Homo sapiens: one gene and its partners. The protein of the gene in region 1 interacts with the protein of each later gene in a pairwise test. Each region holds a gene or a part of one and is shown in the gene's direction. Other genes may lie near its edges.

Region 1 (10,662 bases):
TTTAACATGCTGGGGAAAATGATGTCTGGACCGTGCAACTTGGTGTTGTGTTACTGTCATTCTTCTATTTACTGATCGCCTATGACTTGATTTACTCTACAGAATCTTGTTAGAACAGATCATTCTGGGCTCTGTGTCAGACAATATAGTGATAACCATATAAACAATATATACTGATAGAACCAAAAATTTTGATATAAGTACAAATTATGGTATAATTGGGAGGGGGATAGGGAAATGAAAGTCTACGAAATCATAGTCTAGTTTAGCATACAGTGCTAGATGATCCAAAAATAATAAGTGGCCAGGCCTGGTGGCTCATGCCTGTAATCCCAGCACTTTGGGAGGCTGAGGTGGGAGGATCACTTGAGCCCAGGAGTTCGAGACGAGCCTGGCCAACATGGCGAAACCCTCTCTACAAAAAAAAATGTTTTAAATTTAAAAACAAAAATAATAAGGAATTTTTGTAAAAAGAAATTTGTGGGTAAATATTGAGAGAAACCAGTAAAATGAGTTGCTTCTAAGGAGGATACCTCAGGGGTCAGAAGAATGCTGCTTTTTGTTCCAAGTCTTGTAGCACTATCTGATTTTTTTAAACTATATATAACTGTAATAACATTAAAAATAATGAAAACAGCAACTTACCAAATAAGTTTACAAATCTTCCACTAAGTTCCTCAGAGCATCTTACATGTACCCATCTAAGCCTCATAATTGTTTCTCCCACCTTTTTAGACTTTCCAAGGTCCATTCTTCCTTTTTAATGGTCAGGAGTTCGAGACCAGCCTGGCCAATGTGGTGAAACCCCAACTGTACTAAAAATGCAAAAAAATTAGGTGGGGTAGTGGCAGGCACCTTTAATCCCAGCTACTCAGGAGGCTAAGGCAGGAGAATCCCTTGAACCTGGGAGGTAGAGGTTGCAGTGAGTCGAGATTGTGCCATTGCACTCCAGCCTGGGCAACAATAGTGAAACTCTGTCTGAAAAATAAATAAATAAAAATAAAGATAATTTTAAGATTATTGTTTTAAAGAATAAATGTTGATATTCTTAAGGTGGTAAAAGCAAGATAATGGCATATTTATTAGTAACAAAAATTTAAACAACAAAGAAAAAGCAAATGATTTCCAAAATATCAATAACAAATCAGTAAATAAAGGTAATCAGAAGTTTAACTTCCTTGTGGCTGGGCACAATGGCTTGTGCCTGTAATCCCAGCACTTTGGGAGGCTTCAGTGGGCGGATCACTTGAGGTCTAAAAACTACAAAAAATTAGCCAGGTGTGGTGGAACATGCCTGTGGTCCAGCTACTTGGGAGGCTGAGGCAGGAGAATCACTTGAATCTAGAAGATGAGACCAGCCTGGGCAACATGATGAAACCCTGGCTCTACCAAAAATAAAAAAAATTAGCCCTGCGTGGTGGTGGGAGCCTGTAATCCCAGCTACTTTAGGAGGCTGACACAGGAGTCTCACTTGAACCCGGGAGGCAGAGGTTGCAGTGAGCCGAGATAGCACCACTACACTCTGGCCTGGGTGACAGAATGAGACTCTGTCTCAAAAAATAAAAATAAAAGAACTAAAAGTAATTCTCAAGTGATGAGTATGTAGAGGTGGAGATGAAACAAGAAAGGCGTAATTATTGAAGCTGGGTGATGGGTACCTGGGTTTTTTTTGTTTTTTTGTATGCGTTTTGTTTTTATAGTACCCTTTCTCTTTACCATAGCAAAATAATACATGGGTGTTTATTACACTCTTGTGCTCACTTTGTGTATATGCATTTGAAGTTTTCTATAATTTTTTTTTTTAAGAAAAAGCAATATTTGGCTGGCCACAGTAACTCACACCTGTAATCCCAGCATTTGCAGAGGCCAAAATAGGTGGAATGCCTGAGCTCAGGAGTTCGAGACCAGCCTGGGCAACATGATGAAACCTCATCTCTACCAAAAATACAAAAATTAGCCAGGCACGGTGGTGGATGCCTGTGGTGCCAGCTATTCGGGAGGCTGAGGAGGGAAAATTGCTTGAGACTGGGAGGTGGAGGTTGCAATGAGTGCAGATTGCACCACTGCACTCTAACATTATTGACAGAGTGAGACCCCGTCTCAAAAAAAAAAAAAAAGCAACATTCTGGCTTACCATATTAGCGAGTCAAAAGATAATATTTAGGGCTGGGTGCGGTGGCTGATGCCTGTAATCCTAGCACTTTGGGAGGCCAAGGCGTACGGATGACCTGAGGTCAGGTGTTCAAGACCAGTCTGGCCAACATGGTGAAACCCCATCTCTACTGAAAATACAAAAATTAGCTGGGCGTGGTGGCGGGTGCTAGTAATCCCAACTACTCAAAAGGCTGAGGCAGGAGAATCACTTGAATCCAAGTGGTGAAGGTTGCATTGAGCTGAGATTGCGCTGCTACACTCCAGCCTGGGCGACAGAGCCAGACTGTCTCAAAAAGAAAAAAAAAAATAGCAATGTAAACATATTATTTAGAAATGTGGAAGTAAATAAGAGTGAAAACAGGGCCGGGCGCAGTGGCTCACGCCTGTAATCCCAGCACTTTGGGAGGCCGAGGCGGGCAGATCACGAGGTCAGCAGATCGAGACCATCTTGGCTAACACGGTGAAACCCCATCTCTACTAAAAATACAAAAAAATTAGCTGGGCATGGTGGTGGGCGCCTGTAGTCCCAGCCACTTGGGAGGCTGAGGCAGGAGAATGGCCTGAACCTGGGAGGCGGAACTTGCAGTGAGCCGAGATCGCGCCACTGCACTCCAGCCTGGGCGACACGAATGAGACTCCGTCTCAAAAAAAAAAGGTGGAAACAGTTAACAGACATCAAAGTGGATGCCTCTGGGATGAGAACTGACTTGGGGAGGGCTGGAGGAGGGAACATCTCTGTATTAGAAGGCTTTGATTTTATTTTATTTTGAAACCTTATGCATGTATAACTTTGATAATATATTCATTTGTGGATTGCCACATTGTTTTCGAGGAAAATACCCATGTGATCTTACATGAATAATCAGGCATAGACCAGTGCTTTGAATATATAAAAATTCTGTTTAGCCATGATAATTTTGGCAGTATGCCATTTATTTCTGTTGCCAAAGGCAGTGATTTAAATTGGAATTCCTGCCTGGGATGAGTAGGGCTAAGAGGTTTGATTACATATAGTTTCCCCATCTGTACTCTGGCCTCCAGCAGTTTGTTCTTTATGCAGCAGCGAAGAGTGATCATAAATAAGCTTATCTCACTCTCCAGTTTGAAAGCTACTAAACGTCTTTCATAGCAATTAGAATAAAATTCAAACTCTTCGGCATGGCCTACACACAAGGCCCTAAATAATGTAAATGATTGGACTCGCTCCCAGTTCTCCTGTCACTCTCCTCAATCACCATGCCCCAGCCTCAGTGGCCTTCCTTGGCACACCCACAGCTCATTCCTACCTCAAGGCCTTTGACTTGCCATTGCTCATGAGACCGATTGCTTACCATCACTCAGGATCTCATTCAAAACTTCATTCCTGGAAAAGGTCCTTCCCGACCATCAAGCTAGAGGAGCTTGCTGCACCCCTTCTCTGCCCACAGCTATGGATCTCCAAGTGTGGGCTTCAGACCAGAAGCGTCAGTGTTGCCTGCAAGCATTTCATTTTGTGTTGTGTTTTCTCTGGAAATGCAGAGTCTTAGGCCCCACCACAGACCCACTGAAGGAACAGCTACATTTTAACCAGACCCCAGAGTGATTGTGCTTTAAAAATTTCAGAAGCACTGATCTAGAGTTTCCCCTTCTAATTTTCCTGTGTATCTGTTACAAGGTGTGTCCATTGCTGCAGGTAATCTGGCATTTGTTTACCTGTTTATTATTTCTCTTCCCTAAATAGAATTTAAGGTCCACAAGGGCAGCACCTCGTCTGGCTCGTTCACTTCTGGATCCCCGGCACGTAGCGTCAGTGCACACAGTACATGCTCAATAAGTATTTAGATGAGTGAAAGAATAAATGAATATAATGGAAATTATTTTATGTTCTTTGAAATGTATAACTGAAGGCTGGGTGTCATAGCTCAGCCTGTAATCCCAGCACTTTGGGAGGCCAAGGTGGGAGGATTGCTTGAGTCCAGTACTTCAAGACCAGCCTTGGCACATGGCAAAGCTGCAACTCTATAAAAAAATACCAAAAAAAAAATATATATATATAGCTGGGTGTGGTAGTCTCAGCTACTTCGGGAGGCTGAGGCAGGAGAATCACTTGAACCTCGGAGGTCAAGGCTGCAGTGAGTCATGATTGCAACTGCACTGTAGCCTGGGCAACAGAGGAACATCCTGTCTCAAAAAAACAAAACAAAACAAAACAAACAAAAAGGATTGCATAATTCTACAATAAAAATCTTCATGGCTTTCACTTGTTTGTAAAATCGGGGTGATTTTTCTCTCCCAACATCATCGTTATACAGGGGTTTCATTCTATATCTTGGGCATCAAGTGCTATTAAACTATTGTGGCCTGTGAAGAATTACTTATTTATCCTTGCTTTGGGGCAGTTTGTCTTCAGAACCAAAGTTTAGATTTTGTTTAGACTGATTCTCTACTGACTTAACACCATAACTGGTTTTTTTTTTTTTTTTTAGTATTTAAGAAGCACTCTCGTTCAATCCAGAGTTAACATTATCTTTAAAGGTTTTTTATTCAAAATGAATGTTTGATATTTGTATCAAGTTTTATCAAATAAGTTAACAATTTAAAAAAAATCAGGTTTTAAAAATGTTAAGTCAAATGCAAGATTTAAAGTTAAATTGCAAATAAAAACTGATAGGGCATATAATGTATCCAGTTTTTTACATCTGAGATAGGATTCCAGGAAAGACCTATAGTTTCTGATATTATCCTGCATTTTTTTTTTTTGAAATGGAGTTTTGCTCTTGTTGCCCAGGCTGGAGTGCAGTGGTGCAGTCTCGGCCCACTGCAACCTCTGCTTCCAGGGTTCAAGTGATTCTCCTGCCTTAGTCTCCCAACTAGCTGGGATTACAGGTGCACACCACCATGTCCGGCTAATTTTTTGTATTTTGAGTAGAGACGGGTTTCACCATGCTGGCCAGCCTGGTCTCGAACTCTTGACCTTGTGATCTGCTCGCCTCGGCCTCCCAAGGTGGTGGGATTATAGGTGTGATCCACGGGCCCGGCCCTACATTTAAAAAATACATTCCCAGTATATTTCTTAATGCATATCCTGGTGAAATTTGTGAAGAAACAACTTTTCAATCTATATTCTTTGAGTGAATAAATAGCACAACTTACATTCTATGGTTTTCAACTGGGGGCAGTCGTGTCCCAGCGGATGTTTGGCAATGGCTGTGACTGCATTTTTGGTAGTCACACCTGGGATGGAGGAGTACTGGCAGCATCTAGTTGGGGGAGCTCTGGGGTACTGTTAGTTATGTAATGCACAGAACACCCCACAGCACAAAGAATTATCTAGCCCAAAATGTCAGTAGTCCACTGTTAAGAGACAGTGGACAACTGTCTCCTTCTGCATAGAGAAGTCTCCTTCTGCAAATACTAATGCCATTGGAAAACGAATACTTTGCCCTACCTTCTGGAGAAGAGAATATATAGAAATTGGCAACTGAGAGATTCAGATGGGTATACTGGCACCTTTAGATATGTTCATTTTAGATGATTATTTCTAATCAGAAATCTAGTGACTGGCCTCCCTCTCTTTGGGGCAAATCACTCTCTCAACACAGGACATTTAAGACATTTCACAACTTAGTTGATTTTAGAATTGGATAACGTTCTCAAATAATGATACATTTTTTAAAATAGGGAAATTCAAATATAGGGTTACTGGTTTTCCTTATTTTACAGATGGGGTCGAGGATTTGGTCTTTTGGGTTCCATTTTTGGAAAGGATGGTGTATTAAACCAGCCAAACAGTGTCTTTGGACTTATATTTTATATACTACAGTTATTACTTGGTAAGTATTTATCAATACAAAAATAAGTTTGTTATATTCCGTTTAGTACTTTGTGTCTTTGCCCTGAAGTGTCTTGATGTTAAAGCATGTGTTATTTATAGAACCACTAGCGTGTACAACATTTTTGTGTTATGAAAACTTGATTCACTGAGATTTTTATTATATTATTGTTGAATTTATGTCAATTGCTGTTTAATCATGGAGAGCAGTATCTCATGATGTCCAGAAAAACCAGTCCCATTCCAGGAAATTATCACTCCCATCTTCCCTGTTAACGTTTTTCCTTATTTTATAGACTCAGTGGCCTTGAAAAATATCATATATTAAGGGGACATTAACAAGAAACCATATTCATAATCCCATTACCTTTACATATCCACTATTTCCACAGTCTTCTGCTTTTAAAAATAATTTTTGGGCTGGGTGCGGTGGTGCACACCTGTAATCCCAGCACTTAGGGAGGCCAAGATAGGCAGATCATCTGAGGTTGGGAGTTCGAGACCAGCCTGGCCAACATAAAGAAACCCTGTCTCTACTAAAAATACAAAATTAGCTGGGCGAGGTGGTGCATGCCTGTAATCCCAGCTACTCATGAGGCTGAGGCTGGAGAGTCACTTGAACCCGGGAGACGGAGGTTGTAGTGAGCTGAGATCGCGCCATTGCACTCCAGCCTGGGCAACAAGAGCGAAACTCCGTCTCACAAAAAAGAAATAAATAATAATAATAATAATAACTTGGGGCCAGGTGCAGTGGCTCACACCTGTAATCCTAGGACTTTGGGAGGCCGAGAAGGGCAGATTACTTGAGCCCAGGAGCAACATGGTGAGACTCTGTCTCTGTAGAAAATACAAAAATTAGCCAGGTGTGGTGGCACACACCTGTAGTCCCAGCTACTTGAAAGGCTGAGGTGAGAGAATCACTTGAGTCCAAGAGATGGAGGTTGCAGGGAGCCGAGATCACACCACTGCACTCCAGCCTGGGGGTCAGAGCAAGACGCTGTCTCAAAAACTAATAATTTAATGTGAACTGTGTTTCAACATAGTGTCGTTTATCCTAAGTGTTATTGTTAACATCTAGGTTTCACTCCTTTTACTTCCAAATAATGCTGCAGTGATCAACTTTGTTTAAAGACCTCCTGCTCCTTCCTTCCTTTGAATTATCTCCACAAAATAAATTTCCAAGCATAGTATCAAAAAACACAGATATTTTCAATTTTAATCAGTGTTACCAATTTGCTTTTCCCTCAGTTCTTTGGTTTCCCTGAAGCTCCAGCGGTCTTTATTTTTAAGACATGCTTTGTAAAATTTCTTTTTTTTTTAATTGTAACGATAATCTTCACCTGGAAAAATTGCTAATAGTTACACATTAGTACCTATTACTTTAATTTTTACTCTTTTTAATTTCCTTTTATTGCCCATTTAGCATTTAGTTATTGGATCCCGATACTAGTACATTTTTATATGTGTTACAAACATTTTATGCATTCTTTATCCTTTTTTGTTAGTGTTATGAATTTGTATTGTATTAAGTTTTTATACTTTTAGAGTTAAATCCATCTGTTGATGCCTTTGCATTTTATTTTTCTTCTTTTTTGTAGATCTTGTTGCATACCAATGCTTTTGTATTTTAATTGTTAATATTCCATTACCTGTCAGCTCTTCTGATTTGGTTCATTAAAAATACATGTAACTCTTCTATCTGAAATTGATTTGTTATGAGGCAAATTATAAATCTAAATCATCCTCAGTAGTTCTGTCGAGTTTGCCCAGTTCCATATCTATGTATTTATCTTGCAGAAGTAGAAAGATGTGTGCACAAGGATATTCATAGCAGTACAGTGTAAAATAGCAAAAAAAAAATGGAGGTAGGTTACAAATAGATAATGGTTGAATAAATTAGAAAATACTATGAAATACTATGTAGCCATTAAAGGAAAAAGGAGATCTATGTTTATATCCTAGAAAGATAAAGACACTATTTAGTGAAAAAAGCAAATTTTGGTATAATAGGTATAGGATAAACGTGTTTGTATACATGCATGTAAATGCATAGAAAAGGGTCGGGTGGTTGGGGAGGAGGGAGAAATTTCACTAGGTATTCTGCATGTTTCCATTTTGCTGGATTTCTAGAGAAGAATATGAAGTATAAGCCCAGATGCAAGATGTTTTCCTTTAAAGGCAAAGAACCTAAGAACAGCCTTTGACTAGATTAACTCTTGAAGATAGAGGTGTGACAGCCAAATTTTTGTTTTACCATTAATTTAATGCCATGGTATATACATATTTTAAATCATATTTATCACATGTGTTTTTTCATTCGCATTTTTTGACTCGCATTTAGATGCTTCACGTGCCTTTTAATGTTGGTGTCTTCATGGGAGGCACATTTGAACTAACCTAGCAATTTCCAGAGCACAGCATCTGTACTCCCTTCTAACCTGTTTGAGACACAGCATTTTTAATTTAATTTTTTCATAGGTAATCCATTCACGTGGTTCAAAAGTTTTTAAAAAGGACCGGGCACAGTGGCTCATGCCAATAATTCCAGCATTTTGGGAGGCCAAGATGGGTGGATCACGAGGTCAGGAGTTCAAGACCAGCCTGGCCAACATGGTGAAACCCCATCTCTACTAAAAATACAAAAATTAGCCAGGTGTGGTGCCGCACACCTGTAATCCCAGCTACTTGGGAGGCTGAGGCAGGAGAATTGTTTGAACCTGGGAGACAGAGGTTGCAGTGAGCTAATGTCGCACCATTGCACTCCAGCCTCGGTGACAGAGCGAGACTCCTTCAGGAAAAAAAAAATATATATATATATACATATATAAAATGTTACACAAAGAAAAATCTATCCCACCCCTTCCCTTTATGCCTGGTTTCCAGTGCTCCTCAGCCCCGACTGGTAGCTTGTTATTGTCTCTTTATGCATATACGAGAAAGTACAAATACACAATCTTAATTTTCCTCCTTTTTAAAATATAAAAGGCAGATGCTATACCCACTGTTCTGCAGCTTGCATTTTCTTTTTTTGCCTGATGAATATATCATGGTGATTTTTCCATATCAGTATATTAAATGTCTTCATTCTTTTCTACAGCTGCAGAATAATCCATTGCATAATTGTACCATCATTTATTTAGAGTTACAGCACATTTTAAATTCCACTGGGAATTTGACCCTGAGCCAAACGTACCTAGCTGCATTACAGTAGCATTTAATGGATATCTGGTATTTATACACTATTCTAAGTGCTTTAATCCTGCATTATCTCAGCTCATTTAATTGCCCAGCAGTCTTAAGAAGTAGGCATGATTGTTATCCCAATTTTACAGTTGAGAAAAGAAAGGCATAGAGGAAGAAATAAGTTGCCCGTATCATTCTGAAGTTAACTTTCTTAGGTAAAATTGTGACCACATTAATTTCGAAATGTTAGTTGTTTAGCATAGGTGAAGTCAGCAAACTTTTTCAGTAAAGGGCCTGGCAGAAAATAGGCTTTGCCAGTTGCCGCAGCCACTCAACTCTTCTAGTATGAAAGCAGTCACAGACATTACGTAATGAATGACATTACATAAATGAATGAGCATGGCTGGGTGCCAATAAAACTTTATTTACAAAAGCAGGTAGCTGGCCAGATTTGCTAGTCCCTGCAACAAGTAATTCAGCAGCACCTTAGTCTTGAAGTGCCCTATGAAAGCATCTAGGCCCGTGGCTGTGCGGCAGCCGGCCCACAGGCGTCTTCTTGTTGCATTTTTTTTTTTGCCAACAGGGCCCAGGATTTCAGCTCTTTAACTGACTTCTTTATACCTGCTCCCACCTGTTATTTTGTTCCTGTTTCTGTTATCCTTATCCATGAGTCATTGGGTAGGAGGGTAGTTTAACATGCTCTGCCTTCTCTGTCCTTGAAAATAAATGCACATATTCTCTATACTGTTGCCTATAAGAAATTAAAAACAATACATGTGAAGATAGAGTCCAGAATTCAGGTGCCTTTTTTTTTCCTTTTTTTTTTTTTTTTTTTTTTTTGAGACAGAGTTAAGACTCTGTCGCCCAGGCTGGAGTCCACTGGTGCAATCTTATCTCACTGCAACCTCCGCCTCCTGGGTTCAAGTAATTCTCGTGCCTCAGCCTCCCTTGTAGCTGGGGTTGCAAGCGTGCAATACCATGCCCAGCTAATTTTTTTTTTCTCTTGTACTTTTTAGTAGAGAGGGGCTTTCACCATGTTGGCCAGGCTGGTCTCAAATTCCTGACCTCAAATGATCTGCCTGCCTTAGCCTCCCAAAGTCCTAGCATTACAGGCATGAGCCACTGTGCGTGGCTTCAGGTGCCTTTTTGTATTGAGAGCCTGGATTTAGCACACATGTCCACCATTTTTCTTGATCAGGTTTGACCCACATGCAGCCAACGGGCAAAATGTGGTTTCCCTTATCCACCAGGGTGAGCCCTTCCTGAAATGTTTATCAAGAGTTTCTTTTTCTCTCTTCAGCAGCTTGTTGGTGTAGTCACCTCTCATTGTGGATTTTTAATCAATTTGATCTAAACATGGAAAAGCAAATTTTACTTTCCACAGATGGGCAGGATGTAGTGAAAGTCCAGAGAAGGTTCTCACCAAATGTGTGCAGCTCGGAAGAAAAAGGTTGTGGTCCTCATGTCCCGTTATTCATTTGGTGTCTTGGGGCTGTTGATGTTACAAGTCAGCT
Region 2 (10,662 bases), on another chromosome or scaffold:
AAATGATAGATCCTGAGGATAAAACTTCTTTTATTTATTTATGTATTTTTATTGATCATTCTTGGGTGTTTCTCGCAGAGGGGGATTTGGCAGGGTCATAGGACAATAGTGGACGGAAGGTCAGCAGATAAACAAGTGAACAAAGGTCTCTGGTTTTCCTAGGCAGAGGGCCCTGCGGCCTTCTGCAGTGTTTGTGTCCCTGGGTACTTGAGATTAGGGAGTGGTGATGACTCTTAACGAGCATGCTGCCTTCAAGCATCTGTTTAACAAAGCACATCTTGCACCGCCCTTAATCCATTTAACCCTGAGTGGACACAGCACATGTTTCAGAGAGCACAGGGTTGGGGGTAAGGTCACAGATCAACAGGATCCCAAGGCAGAAGAATTTTTCTTAGTACAGAACAAAATTGAGTCTCCCATGTCTACTTCTTTCTACACAGACACAGCAACAATCTGATTTTTCTATCTTTTCCCCACATTTCCCCCTTTTCTATTCGACAAAACCGCCATCGTCATCATGGCCCGTTCTCAATGAGCTGTTGGGTACACCTCCCAGACGGGGTGGTGGCCGGGCAGAGGGGCTCCTCACCTCCCAGTAGGGGCGGCCGGGCAGAGGCGCCCCTCACCTCCCGGACGGGGTGGCTGCCGGGCGGAGACGCTCCTCACTTCCCAGACCGGGTCGCGGCCGGGCAGAGGAGCTCCTCACATCCCAAACGGGGCGGCGGGGCAGTGGCGCTCCCCACATCTCAGACGATGGGCGGCCGGGCAGAGACGCTCCTCACTTCCTAGACGGGATGGCGGCGGGGAGGAGGCGCTCCTCACTTCCCAGACTGGGCAGCCGGGCAGAGGGGCTCCTCACATCCCAGACGATGGGCGGCCAGGCAGAGACGCTCCTCACATCCCAGACGGGGTCGTGGCCGGGCAGAGGCGCTCCTCACCTCCAAGACTGGGTGGCGGTCGGGCAGAGACACTCCTCAGTTCCCAGACGGGGTCGTGGCCTGGCAGAGGCGCTCCTCACATCCCAGATGGGGCGGCGGGGCAGAGGCGCTCCCCACATCTCAGACGATGGGCGGCCGGGAAGAGGCGCTCCTCACTTCCCAGACTGGGCGGCCGGGCAGAGGGGCTCCTCACATCCCAGACGATGGGCGGCCAGGCAGAGACGCTCCTCACTTCCCAGACGGGGTGGCGGCCGGGCAGAGGCTGCAGTCTCAGCACTTTGGGAGGCCAAGGCAGGCGGCTGGGAGGTGGAGGTTGTAGCGAGCCGAGATCACGCCACTGCACTCCAGCCTGGGCAGCATTGAGCACTGAGTGAACGAGACTCCGTCTGCAATCCCGGCACCTCGGGAGGCCGAGGCTGGCGGATCACTCGCGGTTAGGAGCTGGAGACCAGCCCGGCCAACACAGCAAAACCCTGTCTCCACCAAAAAAATACGAAAACCAGTCAGGCGTGGCGGCGTGCGCCTGCAATGGCAGGCACTGGGCAGGCTGAGGCAGGAGAATCAGGCAGGGAGGTTGCAGTGAGCAGAGATGGCGGCAGTACAGTCCAGCTTCCGCTCGGCATCAGAGGGAGACCATAGAAAGAGAGGGAGAGGGAGACCGTGGGGAGAGGGAGAGGGGAGAGGGGAGAAGGGAGAGGGGAGAGGGAGAAAACTTCTCTTATGGCCTTCGGTTTGTATTTCTCAGGCCAATAGATGTATCTATTCCAGTCAGAGGGCTCGTGGTTGCTATTTTTATATTCCCTCTTTTCTCACGGACTGAGAGAAACTAGTTAAGAAAGAAGTAACCTCTTTCTCATACTTTTTTTTTTTTTGAGACAGAGTCTTGCTTTGTCACCCAGGCTGGAGTGCAGTGGTGCGATTTTGGCTCACTGTAGCCTCTGCCTCCTGGGTTCAAGCAATTCTCCTGCCTCAGCCTCCCAAGTAGCTGGGACTACAAGCGCCCGCCACCATGCCTGGCTAATTTTTTTGTATTTTTAGTAGAGACGGGGTTTCACCATGTTAGCCACGTTAGTCTTGAACTCCTGACCTCGTGATCTGCCCGCCTTGGCCTCCCAAAGTGCTGGGATTACAGGCATGAGCCACCGTGCCTGGCCTTTCTCATACTTTTAGAAACCCTTATTTGACCAAATCCTTCCAGACCCAGGACAGGGAGATTTCCTTCTTTCCTAGGCTCCACCCACTAACCGGTTCACCAGCAAACCCTCTGGCCCTATTGACCACAGCAAGATGACTGGTATACAGAGTGAGGGTAACAGTTCTAGCAGACTAGGAGAAATAGCTACAAAAGCAGCTGGCTAACTTCATATGTATACTCCATAAATCATTAGGTTGGGTGGTTTGTGAATAGATTGTAGAATTTATGAGCAAAGCAAAGAGAGATATGAAGTCCACTGAGGCCTGGCCTCTGCCTATTGTCCTTTTTCTGGGCCTGAGAACATTGACTGGGTCTTTCTGAATGGCAGTTATCATGGGTTTTAATGATGTTTCCTTATTTTCAGATTGATTTTGTAGCCCATGATGATATTCCTTATTCATCTGCTGGCAGTGATGATGTTTATAAGCACATCAAGGAGGCAGGTGAGTGAGCTGTGCTTCCTCACTGTAGGGGATCTCAGGGCAGCTGCAGATGTTCAGCCATGTTGCTGCTTTACAGAGGAAAATGTGTACATTAGAAATTCAACATCCTCTTTCAGGCCACATTTTGGATAAAAGGTAAAGATGAGCATAGCACCCATCAATTCTTTGTCGTCAGTTCATGACATCCATCAATTCTTGGTCTAAACATCTACTTTGGATATCTCTCTTAATTTCAGGAAACCCTTTCTCATATTTTTCTTAATATTAGGGCTATGTAACTCTTCTTTGCCTTACCTCTGGCCTTTGATTCGGTCTACCTTCTGTATATCAGTATCTTTCAGTTTCATTTAGTAATAACAGATTCTGCTTTTTGAGGAAAGGAAAGGAATGTTGCCCCCAATTTCCATTTAGTCTTAATACCTGAGCTAACCAGAACCTCACAGTGTTTGTCTGTATGTGTTTCTGAGTTAGGCATGTTTGCTCCAACACAGAGGACAGAAGGTATCTCCACATCAGACATCATCACCCGAATTGTGCGGGATTATGATGTGTATGCGAGGCGGAACCTGCAGAGGGGCTACACAGCAAAGGAGCTCAATGTCAGCTTTATCAACGTGAGTTCCAGCCTTACCCCAGAGTTCCCTGACTCTGTAGGAGACATATCACCTCCCACTCCATCTCAGCTGAACTGGCTTTGCAGTTGGCTTTGATGATCACTCCCAAAAGTTCAGTGAATGAATTACCACTATGTTAACTGTTCACAAAAAGAATGAAACAGACAGTTTCTGCCGTTACGGTCTGGTACCAACACATTCGTATAAAGCCATACAGCCAACTAAATAAATGAGTAATTTATATAGTGCAGTATTTCTGTCAATAAATGGAAAACGGTGTCTCTTAAACTTCCTCTCTCTTCTTCGGTTGGATGATGTCTTGGGAACCTGCGAAAGGCTATGAGCCCTCCTCGTGTGGATAGTGACACCCGACACACCACTTCCCACACAGACCTGAGTTTTAAATTTGGATTGACGAAAGTTAAGTTTATCTTAGCTTAATATTGCCTTTTAGAAACTCTATATATTTTTCTGGGCATGGTAGTTCATGCCTGTACTTTGGGAGGCTGAGGCGGGAGGACTGCTTGAGGCCAGGAGTTTGAGACCAGTCTGGGGGCAACATAGCGAGACCCCATCTCTAAACAAACAGACAAACAAAAAAACTAAAAAAATTCATGCAAATATATATATATGTAGTGTTTCTTTCTTTTTGAGACAGGGTCTCGCTCTGTCACCGAGGCTGGAGTGCAGTGGCGTGATCTCGGCTCACTGCAGCCTCTGTCTCCTGGTGCCTTAGCCTCCTGAATAGCTGTGATTACAGGCATGTGCCACCAGGCCTGGCTAATTTTTTTTTTTTTTTTTTTTTTTTTTTTTTTTAGCAGAGATGGGGTTTTGCCATGTTTGCCAGGCTGGTCTCAAACTCCTGGCCTCAAGCGATCGGACCCCCTTGGCCTCGCAAAGTGCTGGGATTACAGGCATGAGCCACCGTATCCAGCCAACACTATACATTTTGTATGTAAATTAGACCTCAATAAAATCGATTTAAAAAGAAGAAAGCTGCTAACTTTAATGTCTTCTACATAACCAGTTTACCATGCTCCCTGACCTACTCCCATCTCTGTAAATTGTGCTATAAGAATGGATAAAATGATTACATCTAAATATGATTTATCTAGGCAGATAAACCCTAGCTCTTGTTAATTTACTTACTATAGCTTTATTTTTCCCATAAAAATCAGGTGTTTAAAAATTCTAAACATAATCCCTTTTCTCTTTATGATCTGGAAATTTTGAGAGTACTTTTCTTTTTCTTTTTTTGAGATAGAGTCACACTCAGTCATCCAGGCCAGAGTACAGTGGCGCAATCTTGGCTTACTGCAGCCTTGACCTCCGGGCTCAAGTGCTCCTCCCATCTCAGCCTCCTGAGTAGCTGGGACTACAGGCACAGGCCACCATACCCAGCTTATTTTTTATATTTTTATTTTTAGTAGAGATGAGGTCTTGCTATGTTGTCCAGGCTGCTCTCGAGTTCCTGGCCTCAAGCAGTCCTCCCACTTCGGCTTCCCAAAGTGCTGGTATTACAGGCATGAGCCACTGTGCCTGGCCAAGGATACTTCTCATTTGACTAAATACTCCCTTCCCTTCCACCGGAGGGTTTATACCATTTTCCTTATCTTTAGCAAAGTTGGTAAGACCAACGAGTATCATCATTTTGCAAATGAGTAAATGGACCTTAAAATACTAAAGGAACAAAAAGCAAAAAACACAATTCATTTAAAATAATAGAATAAGCCAGTGATAGAGGGGAAAAATCCAGTACAATAAGCAGATTAATTAAGTAAAAGATCTAGTATTTTCTCTTTCAATCTATTGTAATTAGTTTATTCTTGGCAGTATTGTGCAGTGATCTTTTAGCTGCCTCTGTATCTCCGTCTGGAATGAGGTTCGGGCCATGCTGCGCATGTTTATGTTCCAAGTTTATGTTTTATCTTTAAAACTCTGACTTTATTTGGCTACGTGCCTGTTACTGGGTATAGCCTATATTTTTAGTTTATTCCCAAATGCCCACAATATTAGAATTACCACTTCTTGTGTGTGCATCCACAGCATATCTTATCTGTTATTATGCTGAGAGTGGGGTAGATTAAAGCAAAGCAAAATTCTAGACTGAAAACAGTGTCAATTGAGTGCTTGAGCCATGTTTTTTCGTTCTCTTATGGTAGAGAAGTTTAGGATGAGCATTATTTCTCAGAAGAGTTATTTCTTTATCTAGGAGAAGAAATACCACTTGCAGGAGAGGGTTGACAAAGTAAAGAAGAAAGTGAAAGATGTGGAGGAAAAGTCAAAAGAATTTGTTCAGAAGGTGGAGGAAAAAAGCATTGACCTCATTCAGAAGTGGGAGGAGAAGTCCCGAGAATTCATTGGAAGTTTTCTGGAAATGTTTGGTCCGGAAGGAGCACTGGTATGTTCTTTCCCACTGGACAATGTAGGGAGTTCCATGTTGTGGAAAGAATGACAGAATCATTGAGCAGGAAGGGGCATCGACACTGAGAAGTTATCTAGTCTATCCCCTTATCTGGGCAGAACTATCTTTCAACTGTCCCCAGCAAGGTTTTTGAAACCTTTACAGAAAGACGTTACACATTCTCCTAGATAATTTTGCCAGCTCTCTCTCAACCTTAAAGTCTGGTGACAAGATAAGCAAGTCGCCTTGCCCAGCTTTTATCTGTGGTATGATTTTAGATAGAAGGAAAGGAAAGAATAAAGAACAATAAAAAGAAAGCAGCCTCCACTACAAGTAGCTGCAGCAGGAACCCCAGGTAAGGTGGGAATTCTGTCTTTGAGGAGTAGCAGTCTTTTCAACCAAATAAAAGATTGAGCAAGTGAGTCCTAGGTTAGATATCAGGAAGGATCTGTCTGTGAAGGTGTTTGGATAAATTAGAATAATCCTAGACTAGATTATTGAGGAAGAATGGGGAATTTCCCGGGTGATGACAGCAGGGGAGAACCCTTAAATAAATAGTACAGCATAGACTATCCCAGTCCTAGATGCTTCAGTGATGATTAAGTAGGATCCACGGTGTTTTTCTGACTCTTCCTTTCGGTTTCTGCAGAAACATATGCTGAAAGAGGGGAAGGGCCGGATGCTGCAGGCCATCAGCCCGAAGCAGAGCCCCAGCAGCAGCCCTACTCGCGAGCGCTCCCCCTCCCCCTCTTTCCGATGGCCCTTCTCCGGCAAGACTTCCCCACCTTGCTCCCCAGCAAATCTCTCCAGGCACAAGGCTGCAGCCTATGATATCAGTGAGGATGAAGAAGACTAATGTTTCCTCCCTCCTTTCCTGTCCTCCCTTTCTGTCCCATTACCTTCAGAAGCTCTCTGTTGAATTCCAAATTGTGACCCCAACACTAAACCTAAGGACAGCTACAAAGGAAAGACAACTGGGGAAAGAAGACCTAGGACTGGGGGAACCCAAACAGCCTGTCCTGCAAGTGACATCACTCACCCACACGAAGGAGGGGGACTGCACCTTAGAAGCCTGCTCTGCATCCATTTACCCCCCCCCAAGGGCTTTGTTTCACTGTTTATGTTCACGTGATCTCAACAGGGAAATTGTCATTTTCATTAATTTTTTAAAAAATTCGTCTTTCAAATGTAGAACTAATTTTTTGCCCCTGAGGAGTGGGCAGAAGAAGGAGGTAGTGTAATACGCAGAGGCCTTTTCTTCCCGGTATACTATAGCATTTGCCTTCCGTTCTGAAGCTATGTGGCTTGCCAAGTCCTTCACGAAATGAGCCACGCTGATGGGTAATTTGTGGAGAAATATCTTAATTTTGATTTCCTTAAGGAAAAGCGAAAAGCAGAGTTACAGTCACAAATCCCCTGAACGTACTGCTGTCACCAGTGTCATTGTGGCTGCGGGAAGGAGATCTGAACCTAACTTTTCTTACTCCCTGAGGAGTTTCTTGTTGGACCCAATGGGGTCCATGAAGACACTGATGGGGATGGAAGCAGACCCATGGCATCAACTGCAGTGTTTCTGCTGTGTTCATCTTCTCAGAAAACTCTGTGACCCAGTTCTTTGGGAGCTTTTGTCAGTCTCTTTCGTGCCATCTACCTTCGAAGGAAGGAACACTTTTAGAGTTACAATGATGAGGAGAGGAGCGGGACAATACTCAATCCTATACCAAGTCGATTGAGATTAGTTTCCTACTGGGAGTAAGTGCCTGGCCCTGCTACTCCTATTTGAATGCTATTAATATTACCTAGCCTTTTACAAAGGATACTTTGTAAATGTCTGCTGTTGGAACTTGATGTTAATCCATTTTGGTCATAGCCATATTAGAGAGATTTGCACAGAATGTAAAGGCAAAAGCATAGGAAACACCTTCCTTTCTAAAGCAACAGCCTTATCACCTTGACCTCTGTCCCTCTTCAGAACATTCTTCCCTGGAACCAGTGCTCCACATCTTTCTTTTCCTCTGAGAGCTGCAGCTGGCAGGGACCTCCCTCTGCTGCTCCTCCAGCAAGCCACAGAGCATACCCTCACGTGACAAGAGTGTGGTAGGTTTTCTCCCCACTTTTCACACACGCCTGGTGGTTGTGGTTCCATCTGCCTTGTTGGCTTGCCCGGGGGGATTCAACACTTGACTTTCAAATCAAAGAATGCTAATGCTTAGCACTTGCTGTTGAGCATGCTCTAACTTTTAAAGCCCTGGCCTCCTGTCTCCTTAGCTGCTTAGCTACGCGGCCTAGCAGATCATCACCCATCAGTAATCCTGTGGCTAGATCCAGGGGAAAATTGCTTATGTCCAGGCCCCACCCCTGTCACTCATAAATACCCCTTGTGGGGGTGGAATTTTAGTGTTTTCAGCTAAGAAAACCACATTTTCTCTTTCCTTGCCTCTGCTAGGACTGTGAGCATCTCATAGTCCACTCCCTAAACACTTTCTGGTAACACCTAGTTTTCCGCCTGAGGGTCAGAGGCTAGAATCATTGCCTGCACAGCAGGACTACCTTGGTTCTTAAAACTTGGATCACCCAGGCAAGGCGTGGTGGCTCACGCCTGTCATCTCAGCACTTTGGGAGACTGAGGCTGGTGGATCACTTGAGGCCACGAGTTTGAGACCAGCCTGACCAACGTGGTGAAACCCCATCTCTACTAAAAATACAAAAATTAGCCAGGCGTGGTGGTGGGCACCTGTAATCCCAGCTACTTGGGAGGCTGAGGCAGGAGAATCCCTTGAACCCAGGAGGCGGAGGTTGCAGTGAGCAGAGATGGTGCCGCTGCAGTCCAGCCTGGGTGACAGAGCGAGACTCTGTCTCCAAAACAAAACAAAAACCACACACACATACAGAAATAAAGAGAAATAATCAACTAGAAAAAAAACAAAACTTGGATCACCCAGAAAGAGCGTCACAGAGGCGAGGGAGAATGAAGCCTCTTGTTATCCTGATCGCCTATGACAACGACATTTCTAACTCTTCTTTGAAGCGCAGTTCTTACTCTTAAATCTGGTCATACAAGCTTTGGCTTGGAATCCTGTCTGTCTTTGAAACAGCTGAAGTTAGTGTTTTCCTGTGTTACCCAGTGTTACATAGTCTCATCTTTGAACTTTTCTGCGTCAGCCTTCTCTCTTTGGGAATGCTGCCTGTTTCTGTCTAACTTATTCTCCCTGGTGTGGTGTGGCAGTGAAGTCTGTGCTGAAGCCCATCTGCTTGGTTCCTCCAAGTGCACATTATGCAAGTGTATTTGGATAGACAGGGAGATGCCCGGAACGTGGTTTTCCTCCTCCCTCCCTATTGGAGCCATACCTCCTAAATATATTGTCTGGGTCCCAAATGTTTGAGCCCTCTTCCTCTGCTCTCAGTGGGCTGCTCTTGGCATGCCCTGTGCTTGGAACGGGACCTGCAGGCTGACAGGCCTCTGAGACTGCTAGGGCCAGCAAACGTACATGTTATTGGGAAACTCCCTTTCCCCTTTTGGTGAGCTTCTACCACCTCAGTCTAATCGTTTTGACTGAAAGCTATTTGTCTGACTGAAAGCTAAAATCTTTTATAGTGTGGCCTGTTAGATACTTTGGGGTAAATGTGGTCTGAGGTGCTGGACTAGCACGGGTAGATGGAGAAAGCTGTTGGGAAGTTGCATAATGTGGTCATCTGTGCCTAATTAAATGAGGTTAGAGGTGTGCACACCACCACAATGCCTGGGATCTAAATCTTCAGATATTAACGTTTGAGGCTATGGAGCTGTTTCCCTGAATCACACACGAGAAAGCAGTCAACATGGGTGGGCCAAATGTGGCCAAGATGAGAGAGCCAGAAGTGTTGGCCTTAGAGCAGAGCCTCTGTGTGTGAGACATTAGAAGGCCAGAGCCGGGGAGGTGCCGGCGCAGCCACTGCCTTCCGGTGGGCCGGACGGAAAGCTTGGTCTTATGCTAGATTCAGAAGCACTGAAGAATGGAGGTTGACACTTTAGAGGACTAGGAAGGGATCATTTGTGCTCTTGCAGCTATTGCTGATAGCTAGAGCCAAAGACCATTATATTGCTGAGGCTTGGGTAAGAAAGTTAGGGATGTGAGGAGGTTGAAAATCCTGAAGAAGAGAAAAAATATGAGGGAGGCTAAGGAAACTTAGCCACTTTCTGATCACTGATGACTCCTTAGGCTGCACCTGAGTGATGGTGGTGTTTTTGGAGGCTGTACCTGAGTGATGGTGGTTTTTGGGGGGCTGCACCTGAGCGATAGTGATTTTTTTTTGGAGGCTGCACAGCTGGTCAGACCATCTCTAGATGTTCTTTCCACAGTGGTTCATAGGGCGTCATTCCCCCTTCCTGGATTATTTTGACTATGGGTAGCTTATTTTCAAGAGCTCTTTGCCTTTTTAATCCTGTTCCAGATCACTTATCCAAAATCTTTCCAAATCAATTATATTTTGCTGCTTTTCTTTAATTCCCTAAAAGCCATAGCTTCTAGATTTTCTATCAGCACACATTCTCACCAGAAGTTGAACCAATACAGGTAGAAAAAGAAAGCCCCCTTAATGTTTTTAACTGATGATATTTTTTTAAGCTTACCAATATAAGTATTTTTAAAGGTTCTATTTTTCAAAGTCATAACAATGATTGTTCTTGTTTTCTCTCATAGAATAGACTGCCATCGGATAAAGAGTGGTCCCTAGCTTCTATTTTTCCAAGTAAATAAGTAGAACATGTTCTTGGGATTATACCATTAAATGTTAATTTTCTTGAAGAAGAAAGATTGTTGTCTGCCAAGATTTTATGTTAGCGCTCGGATTGAGGCAGAAAACGGAAGCACCAGGTTTAACACTGGGATGACTTGGGTTGTGTTCCTGGAGGTTTGAAGTGGGCCTTCCCGCCTTTTGAGGGGGAAAACTGACTGTTTTGAACACATATCCTGGATTAGTTGGGTTGTTTTGTATTGAGGATCCCTAAAAGACAAAAGAGTCTTGGAAAGGACTGCTGGCTTCGTCTTGAACGTTCGCCCCATCACCAGTGTGAGTCCGTGGGGAAGTC
Region 3 (10,662 bases), on another chromosome or scaffold:
GTTCCGGGCATCTCAGCCGCACGGGGTACGCTCGCCCTCGGCGGGGCCCCTCGCTCCGCTGTGGGAGTGGCAGTGGGTGTCGGGGTGGAGAAAGTACGCGTGGCGCGGAGTCCTGGGGACGCGGCGTCCCACCCGCTCTGGGGAGCCCCGGACTCTCTCCAGCTTCCAGGCTCGCATGCCCCTCTTTTCTTAGTGCCCTGAGAACCCAGCGAGGGGCTGACCCTCCCGAAACCGTGGCGCAGCCACCAGCAATCTGTGGTCGCCGACTCGGGGGGTTGCCAGGTCTGCGTTTGGCCACCCTTTCTGTCCTGGGGGCTGAGGTCAGCTCCGGGCGCCCGGCCCCGCCGCGCGGCTGCGAGCACGTGGGGTTGACGGGCGCCGCGTGGAGGCAGCGAGCACAACGGTGGTCACCGCCGCCAGGGAACCGCCCGCTCGCTGGGGTCCAGGCGTTCGGGGCCAAATGAGAATGTCTCAGACCTGTCCGCAATGGAGGCAGCCTGCTTAATTCGAACCTCGATTCAGTAAACATGCAACAGCAGCATAGAGAGCAGCTGAAGCCATTCATAACACGGGACAACATTTCCTTTTTTCTTCCATGCTGGAATTGCAATTAGGGCGGTGTCGCTTGGATGTGCTCTCAGGCGGCACGTCCCCAGCGGTTCAAGTTATAATAGAGTCTCTCCATAGCTTTGATGGCCGCTAAACGTTTGTTTTATTTTGGCATTAATTTGTGAAACATTTTTGTTAGGTTAAAAAACAAAAAGTTGGCAGGGAGCAGTGGCTCACCCATGTAGTCCCAGCACTTCGGGAGGCCGAGGCCGGAAGACAGCTTGAGCCCAGAAGTTCGAAATCAGCCTGGGCAACATAGGGAGACACCGTCTCTATAAAAAAAAAATACAAAAATTAGCCGGGCGTGGTGGCCTGTGCCTGTGGTCCCAGATAGTCAGCAGGCTGAGAGATCACTTGAGCCAGGGAGTTTCAGTAGACTGCAGTGAGCTGTGATTGCCCCACTGCACTTCATCCTGGGTGACAGTGAGACCCTGTCTCATAAAATTAAAACAAAACAAAACAAACACTAAGTATAGATTCCATCAAAGCAAAATTGGATAAGAAAAAAAGTATCTTTTCTATTGGATCAGTTTGAAAACACTGGAGAGTTGATGAGAAAGTCTTCAACATCTTAGGTGGGGTATGTTTCGTATGTTTCCCTTCGTACTGCTTAATGCTGACAAGAAGATGGTAGGAGCCAACTCCAAATTCTTATTTCAGAAAGCACACCATAGAATAACGTCATTTTCATTGCAAAACAAGCACCGAAATATGTCATCACATTCAAGTTTTTCCTAGGCTCCCTTACAGGTTCAAGATCCTAAATTCTTGGGAGTCAGTGTCACCTCTCTGGGTTTAGGTTCCTCAACTCTGCAATGAGTTTGGATGAGGCCAATGTTCTCTGAGCCTGGTGTAACTCTTGCCTCTTTAAGTGGACACTTATGTGATTAATTAGTTTAATTGAGTTGTAGCCAACACATGCTTTTCCTAGCTGTAAATATATTAAGGAAGGATTATTTCCAAGTAGACTGGAAACGATGCCCTCCCATCCCCTCCACTTTCACTCTACTCACCCAATATATCATGCCTCTCCCATCACAGCAACTTTCTCCCTCTTTCTCCTCCAGATGCATTCATCTAGGAAGGTAAGAATTTCAGGGAGAGAAAGATGTCACCGTGGTAGAAAGACAGGGATCACCTCCTCTGGGCTCTTGAGTTTACTTATTCATTCTGGATTCTTTCTAACAAGAATATGAGGACAAGAGGCACTGTCCTCAGGCACTTCGTCCTGGGAGCCACCACCATCTCTGCATGGCCCCAATTAGGAAACGTGAAGAGCTAGGAGAGGGAGAGTATGGTCAGTGCTTAGCAGCTGAAGTTCCACTTGCCTGGCCATCGTGAATTTCCAGGCTGTCTTCTGAGTTGAACATGATGGCAAAGGAGAGCAAAATAGCAGATGTCACTGAAGGAGAGCTCAGCGAGGGAGTGATTGATTAATAGCTGTATTGAAAGGTGGGAGTCAGGTACGGGGGAAGAGCGGCGATGGAAAATTTTCGCTTTCTTTCAGCAGCTTATTTTTAACTCAGCTTTCTGTTCTTGCTTTATTATGGAGGAAAAATTGGGCCATAGAGTTTACTGCCTTATGCCAGATTGTTCAAGAAAATGCCTTGCAACTTACAATATTTTGCAGCTAGTTTCTTCCGTGACCACCACAAAGACTGCATTGACTTAAATATGAAGATGTTCCAGCCATCAAAATGATGGTTGGTGATGATTTTGGATCACAAAGTGTAAGGAAAGTATTCAAGACATGAGTATCATGATTTTTTAAGGTCTGGATGAAGAGACCATTTGGATTTACTAATAAGGTAAATTCCAACTTTTATGGCAATAAAAACAACAAAAACACTTATCAGTGTAAAGCTTTGGGATCATCTATCCATTAAATGAGTTTGTCACCACAGTGAACTAAATACCTTTTATCAACAGAGACTTTCTAACCTGGGAGTAAAATTCTTGTCACAGTGCTTTTGTCACATTCTGTCTTTGCAAAAGTTGAAGGCTCCAATAGTTTCTGAAGGACTAATAGGATAGGGTTCCAACTTACTCAGAGGCTAAGAGTTTGAAATTTACTCTGAACGATGTCTGTTCACTAGACTGCGTGACTGCAGTTTGCTGTCTTGTGGCCATTTTAAGATTGTCTGTGTGCACTGACACCATTTGCGTACTCAACAACAGGTATCTACTAGGAAGGAAGGAATGGATTATCTTAGGTGCTATATATATATGTAAGTTCTGCCGGAAGTGAGCCTATTAAACTTGTGCCAATTCATTCCTTTTGCTCTTCCCAGTCTGTGCTCTCAGAATGATCAAATGCTATCTAAGTAGTGTGGTGATTTTGACTGTTTGAATGAATAAACGAAAACGTCTCCCACCATTATTTGACAGTAGAATAGAACAAAGATGACCCAGTTGGCGTGGCCACACTGTGTCTAATCCAGCCACCTTGCTCACAGCACTCAACCCACTTTGGTGTGTGCGCTCATCTGTATTTTCGTAAATGTTGAAGTCTCTTTCTATGCAGTCAGGTAGGGGTAATACCATTCTGGCTTGGATTAATTTGAGTGTAGTACAAAGTTTAGAGAAGCTTTTAAGTAGCATGAAAAGTCAGATGCTTTCGGAGGGATGGTGGTGAATGTAGGTAAATGGATCTGCACTTAGAGATCCTCAACAGCCCTTCATTCAAGATACAGCTATCATGACATCAATAATGTACCTTTGAAAAAAAATTGGCTGCAGAATTAATTACGGTGAAAAACAGTATAGGAGTTAGCACTTACATTTTAACTAAAAAGAATAGCGTCCCCATGTTTATTCAGCCCTCCCTCCAATAAAACAATTGTTGGCAAAGTAATCATGGACTTTCATTGTGTTAGTTTGAGACAACTGGATGTTTCCATTTGCCATCCTCAGCAACAAGAAGAAAGTAGTCTCAGATTAACCAGGTAAGTATTTTGTATTTCACTTAAAAAATCTTGACTGAAATATGCCTATGTGATGACACTCAACCAAATTATTTCATTAACCAGTCCACAAGATCTCCTTAAATAATGATGGCTTATTCACACTTGATGGTCTCATTCAGTGGGGCAATTTTAATACACATCTCTGAACCTATTTTTTAACCCCTCTTTTTCAGTAGTGTGGAAGGTTAGCCCTAATATTGGAGAAAATTCAGGGTAAAATTCAGATGATTCATACAGGATTTATTTTTCCTATTCCATTAATAAAACAACTTTTATAAAAATAAAAAGTAGGCTGGCACAGTGGCTCACTCCTGTAATCCCAGCATTTTGGGAGGCCGAGGCGGGTGGATCATGAGGTCGGGAGTTCAAGACCAGCGTGGCCAGGATGGTGAAACCCCATCTCTACTAAAAATACAAAAATTAGCCAGGCGTGGTGGCAGGCACCTGTAATCCCGGCTACTCGGGAGGCTGAGGCAGAGAATGGCTTGAACCCAGGAGGCATAGGTTGCAGTGAGTCACGATCGTGCCACTGCACTCCAGCCTGGGTGACAGAGCAAGACTCCGTTTCAAAAAATAATAATAAAATAAAATGAAATAAAGTAAAGCTGCATGTTAGAGAAGTCAAGAGCATTACTTACGTTAGAATATCTGAACAGACCAATCAATTCAGTCTGATCATGATATTGATGTTTTTCTTCACCAAATCGACCACATCAGTAATTCACTTTGTTCTTCGATATCCTACAGACACTGCCTGAGTCGATAACTATGACTATCAGTCTCAGAGAGCAAATGAATTACTGAGGAAGCCCTGTAGGAGTGAGAGAAAAGGGGGGAGAGAGAGAGAAAGGGGTGGGGGGATAACAGGAGAACAGAAATTCCAAAGAGAATTGCATTCTCATTGAGTTCTTGTACCTCATGTCATTGCATAAATGTTCATCTTACTCACGTGATGACTTTGATCTGCCTTTAAAGCACCATCTGCTGCTTTCCTGGGATGCTCAACACTTCCCTCTTTCTAGCAACAAGAATTACCACTCTTCCCCTCTATACATTTATCTTTCTCTACGTGCTTTAACTTCTCAGCCTAATTTCGTCTCTGTGAGTTATTATCTATGTTAGAATAAATTCTTTGTCTTTGTTTACACACTCAGATTTGTAGTTATTTATTTAGGAATTTAGGAATAAAGATTCCATAGTCAGGAAAGGCACAATTTATAACTTGCGTGTTACCCAAAACTCTCCCCTAAGGGCTTAATATGGACATTTCTGACGAGGCCTGATGGGCAGGTGGTACGGTGATGCTAAGTTAAATTCAGAATGAAGGCCTGCCTTTCCTTCCCTCCTTCCTTCCCCTTCCCCTTCTTCCTTCCTTCCTTCCTTCCCTCCATCCCTCCCTCCTGTACTCCTCTTCTTTCTCAATTCTAAGGTGGCCTTAATTTCTAAGGGACATGGCAAAAGACAGTCTAGTTGGATGAGTGCAGTCACTAATATTATTTCCATGTATGGAAAATAACTGTTTCCTTAGTAACAATTGCATCAAATCAGTTCACCTGCTGCCCAATAGCAATCACAGGATGCATTGGGACAAATAAATATACTGACTGCCCCACAGCCACATGGTCTAAGTCAGTTACTGGAGAGCTGACTGAAGTTTGGGAAGCATATTCATCTTACGACACTGAGACATCCTCGGGGGGTTGCAAACACAGGTAGTGTGAAAATTATCAGAACATCCAAGAAAAGGAAAGTTTGACTAAGTGCCGATAAGATTTATGATGTCATGTCTGACATAGAATTGAAACCATCACAGAGCACATAGAGTGGTATATTTTCCTGTCAAATGAAAATCATTTTCTTTAAAAGTGAAATGAAAGTCTCTAAATACAAATTTACTAGAGGATGTGTAAATTTCCTACTTTTCATTACATACTCTGGACCCAACAGAGGGAAATTGGAGCTGTCAGTGAGCCATACATGCAATCTGGTACAGGATCTATGGATTGAATAGACTTTTTTTCATGGAACTACACAAAGCCAGTCTTAGTCATTTCAAAGAAAATTTGTGGTCATTTCAAAACCACCAGCAATTCCAGGGACACCAAGTTGCATAATTCTAGGGGAAAGTGGACTAAAAGTGAATGGCAGCCTCTGGAGTTATACTGAGCATTATTCTTAAAATGTCAATTTGGCAAATAGGTGGTAAGCGAGATCTGTCTGCCAGATTGTTCACATCATCTCTGCTTTAAAAAGATTGATCATAGAATATGTTAAAATAAGACCTGTGGAGAGGAGGTATGAGCTATTTAAGGTGGAAAGGTGTGGGAGAGGGTGAAATTAGTTTTAAATTTTCTAAAGCACTTTTTAACAGGAAAAGAAGTTCTTGGGCACTGAAGGCAGAATTAGATTAAAAGTATTCAATACTCTTCCATTATCAGAGAAATAGTAAAGCTACTAGAGTGCTTTCTGGTTGGGAAGGAAGAAGGCTACCAACATCTTCAAATAAAGATGAGAAGTAGAGCATATTCTTGGTGGATGAATGGATTCACGTGTACTTTTACTATATGCAAATGAAAAGAGCTTTAAAGATCAATAGTTTAGCAAGACTCTTATTTGAATAAGTGATCTTGGAGTGTTTACCCATTGTAACAAAACTCCTTTTCTCATAATTAGAATCATTAAGAAATTTCTCCTACATTTTAGATGACGGAGGTGTGTGTGCACGTGTGTGTGTATGTGTGTGTGATCAACTCATTGCATATTTCTTAAACCACAATATTGTTTAAGGAATTTTAGAAAATAATTACTCAATAGGAAAATGTTGGCCAATCCTCAGATATTTAGATAAGGCTGATTCAAATGCCTATTCTTTCACTGTTCTCACTATGACACTCTTATTTTTATTATTGGCCTGACTTCCGCAGTTATTTTGAAGTTACAGATTTTTAAATTTTGAGTTGAAAAAAAAGAGCAAATTTAGATTAAGGAATGAGAAGTAGTCCTCGCAGCCTCATGAATCTCCTGAAATTTCGAACGGCAAAATCTAAAATCTACAAGTTATTACCTTCTTACAGTAAATAGGTGGGTGTTATGGGTCGTTTTCTTTAACTTCTTTACTTGAAAAGGAATTAAATGATTTCCCTTTAACATAACTTCCCTTTGATTGTGCTCTGCTTCATGAAGTCTGATTTTATTTGCAATATAATTTACTTCAACTATTCACTGTACCCCATGAAGATTCAGCAGCATTTATAACTATTGTCCATAGTTTCAAAAACTAGGTTGTCTTTCTCTTCTCACCAAGTTTGGGATTAACTATGAAGAACCAAAGTGAACCCTTTCAACAACAAGGTTTGCTGTGGTTTTCAAGTTTTGCCTTTGTGTGGAACATTGTAATGACATAGTGGGAAAAGAAATATTTGGGGAGAGAATTAACCATGGCTGATACATAGCACGGGTATTTCTGAACAACCTACTAAATTATTTCTTAGAACATTTTGAAGTATATCTTGCCATAGGAGTGGGAACAGTTTCATACAAAAGCCTCCTCATGCTTCCAACTTTTCTTTAAAAAATTTTTTTTAAATTATTTTATTAAAAATAGAGGCCCGGCCCGATGGCTCACACTGGTAATCCCAGCACTTTAGGAGGCTGAGGTGGGCAAATCACTTGAGGCCAGGAGTTTGAGAACAGCCTGGCCAACATGGTGAAACCTCATCTCTACTAAAAATCCAAAAATTAACCAGGCCCGGTGGCTCATGCCTGTAATCCCAGCATTTTAAGAGGCTGAGGCGGGTGGATCACTTGAGCCCAGGAGATAGCGACCACCCTGGGCAACATGGCCAAACTTCATCTCTACAAGAAATACAAGTTAGCCTGGCGTGGTGGCACGCACCTGTGGTCCCAGCTACTCAGGAAGCTGAGGTGGGAGGATCACTTGAGTTCGAGGGTGCAGTGAACCAAGATCGCACCACTGCACTCCTTTGGCCTGGGACACAGAACAAGACCCTGTCTCAAAAAACAAAACAAAACAAAACAACCCCCCCCCCGCCCCACACACACACAAATAGTGGAACTATAGCACACAAGAGCCATGCATGAGTCAGTGTTCTCCACGAAAGCAAGCTTCAAAGTGGAACTGAGAGACCGGGCTCTGATCCTCACCCTCCCACTAATACCAGGGTAGCCTCAGCCAAGTCACTTAAATTCATGTCTTGAGAGAAGACAGAATTAACTAAGGAATCCCCAAACAGCAGTTCCCTTAGTTGAAATCACAAACGTACACACACATACCCTGACTAAGGAGAGCTTCAAGAAAGGCTGGAAGACTTAGGAGAGGTCAATGGTGACAATCTTAATTCAGAGTTAAGGTTGTCTCTCTGTCAACTTTGCTCAACGTTGGAGCATCTGTTGTTCTCTTGCAATCCACATTCGTTTTCGAAAACACTTCAGAAACAAAAATAGCATCAGCGGTGGTTGCCTGTGAACCTAAAACATATCATTCCAATGAATAAAATCAAGCAACCCTCCAGTTAACCTCATATCCAATTTTTCCTTTCCAGAAAGAAGAGATTTTATCGACATCGAAAGTAAATTTGCCCTAAGGACCCCTGAAGACACAGCTGAGGACACTTGCCACCTCATTCCCGGAGTAGCAGAGTCCGTGGCTACCTGTCATTTCAATCACAGCAGCAAAACCTTCATGGTGATCCATGGCTGGACGGTAAGGGAGGCTCTTTGGGGAAGAGTGGATTGGGGTGGTGAGGTATCCTGACTGGCCTGCCCAATTGTTGGGGACCCAGTGATGGGTCCGCACCCCACATCTCACGTGGATCTCCTTACACTTGAATAAAGACAGTTCTGGCTCAGGTGGGATCTGAAGCCACAGGTTCATGAGAACTCCCCCTAGGCAGTGCCAGCCTTCATTTTAACACTGTACCTGGTTGGTGCCCTTGAGCCAGAGCTTCCTGCGAGGTTGGTAAAGGATGCTCTGCCCAGCTACTGAGCAGAAGATAGGTGATTGCTGTGGGGAACCGGTGGAACCCTGGCATGATCCCGCATCACCCAGCACATTGCCAGGAGAACCTTTCTAAAGAAGACAGCATGGAAGAGTGAGGAGAGGGCTGGAGTGGAGTGAGGAAGTGTGGCGTCCATGCTGGCTTTGCCATTCTCCAGCTCTGTGCTGTGGATCAAGTCACTTGTCATCTCTGGGCCTCCATTTACTGATCTGTAAAGCAGAGGTTGCACTAGATGTCCCTAAAAACACTCTACTTCCAAAATTTTCCAGTTGTAAACTTTAGGGAGCCTTTCTGGAAATTAAAAAAAAAAAGGGCTGGGCAGGGAACTGACATGCTGACATGCCAGATGATTAGAAAAAGTGAAACTGTGATTAAATTTACTTTAAAAAATTGTTAAAAGTCCCCTCTCTAATATGTCACACAGTCACTTTAGATTATGTAGTTCTTGCTTAGTTTGTTTTAAAATGTTTCAATCCCAAGTGAGTAGACTGTGTAATTTATTTAAAAGGATTTGTGTAAAATGGCTTGTTAAAGATATATTATCTATCCATTATGTCAGAGCTTGTGAATATTATAATACTAATTTCTAGTGAGAACTAACTAAAAATAACATTCATCTAGTCCACATTTCTTTTCCTACATAATTTAAGTGGCTTTGTTATTGACTGAAGAGGACAATCGCTACAATTTTTATAGAGATGAGACTACTACTAACAGAATTCACACAGATGTTTAACAAAATATAGCCATTTACTATGTTAACATAGTAAATTCAATATTTTGTGATAAAATCTCAAATTCCTAAACATAAATCCTTTAATATTTTAATAGGTGTAAGTAGGAAAAAGGAATCTTTTTCTTTTTTGAGATGGAGGCTCACTCTATTGCCCAGGCTGGAGTGCAGTGGCGCGATCTCGGCTCACTGCAACCTCCGCCACCTGGGCATAAGAGATTCTCCTGCCTCAGCCTCCCGAGTAGCTGGGACTACAGGCGCCCACCACCACACCCGGCCAATTTTTATATTTTCAGCACAGGCAGGGTTTCACCCTGTTGGCCAGGCTGGTCTCGAACTCCTGACCTCAAGTGATCTACCCACCTTGGCCTCCCAAAGTGTTGGGATGACAGGCGAGAGCCACTGCATCTGGCCCAGAAAAAGGAATCTTTAGAGGCCCTTTGGTTATATACAGAACTTGGATTTTAAAATTTTTCAAAAAATCTGAGCTTAATAAACGCATTTATACAACAGAAATAAATTGAGTATCTCAGTCATCTCAATCTTATCCCTGAGAGAATTTTATACTTTGGGAAGTTGTGGGAAAAAAATGGTTCTTTTTCATACTAAGATGACATGACCAACCCAATATCAACAGACGGTGCCACTTCCTATCATTGGTCCTACTGCCTCACTAAGCCCACCTGTATCTTTCACATCATGTGTCCTGACATTTTGAGTGCTTGAGCACAGAGACTGCTGTCTGGCTGTGGGACTGAGTTGGGTCTGTGCAAGAACTAAGCCAGCCACACTGATCTTGATTATCTCAGTGAACTCACTGGCAGGGTCAGGTGGCCCACCTGGTATAGGCAGCAGGGAGGGCTTCAGTTCAGCTGCGTGTCTGAAAACCAAAGATTTAAAACATAGTAATTATTGAACCTCAGAAGAAAAACTCAGATTGAAAGAACTTAGAATAAGACCCTTTTTGAGTTGAGAAAGGTGAGTACTTAGATTTTTCATTTGCTTTGTTTGGGATTACTTACATCAGTATTTTATGTTGATCAGAAAGAAAGGATTCAATTAGCTATTGTTCGGTTAATAAAAATGTCAGCCACTGTAGGAGTAAGTTGGATGTCCAGCCTTTTTAGATTGCTTAACTTGGAAACACTGGGCTGGGAGCGGTGGCTCATGCCTGTGATCCCAGCACTCTGGGAGGCCAAGGCAGGCAGATCACTGGAGGTCAGGAGTTTGAGACCAACCTGGCCAACATGGGGAAACCCAATCTCTACTAAAAAAATACAAAAAAATTAGCCAGGTGTGGTGGTATGTGCTTGTAGTCCCAGCTACTCAGGAGGCT

The links.
Region 2: the proteins of VKORC1L1 (region 1) and PCYT1A interact in binary tests that used the Homo sapiens proteins (3 or more experiments, as listed by UniProt).
Region 3: the proteins of VKORC1L1 (region 1) and LPL interact in binary tests that used the Homo sapiens proteins (3 or more experiments, as listed by UniProt).

What each region holds. Positions count from the first base shown.
Region 1 is NC_000007.14:65,942,815-65,953,476, forward strand, and holds part of VKORC1L1 (vitamin K epoxide reductase complex subunit 1-like protein 1), read left to right. Parts: intron 1-5,856; coding exon 5,857-5,966; intron 5,967-10,662. UniProt on the Homo sapiens protein: Involved in vitamin K metabolism. Can reduce inactive vitamin K 2,3-epoxide to active vitamin K, and may contribute to vitamin K-mediated protection against oxidative stress.
Region 2 is NC_000003.12:196,234,476-196,245,137, reverse strand, and holds part of PCYT1A (choline-phosphate cytidylyltransferase A), read left to right. Parts: intron 1-2,497; coding exon 2,498-2,576; intron 2,577-3,047; coding exon 3,048-3,190; intron 3,191-5,402; coding exon 5,403-5,591; intron 5,592-6,243; coding exon 6,244-6,450; 3' UTR 6,451-10,662. UniProt on the Homo sapiens protein: Catalyzes the key rate-limiting step in the CDP-choline pathway for phosphatidylcholine biosynthesis.
Region 3 is NC_000008.11:19,940,043-19,950,704, forward strand, and holds part of LPL (lipoprotein lipase precursor), read left to right. Parts: intron 1-8,137; coding exon 8,138-8,298; intron 8,299-10,662. UniProt on the Homo sapiens protein: Key enzyme in triglyceride metabolism.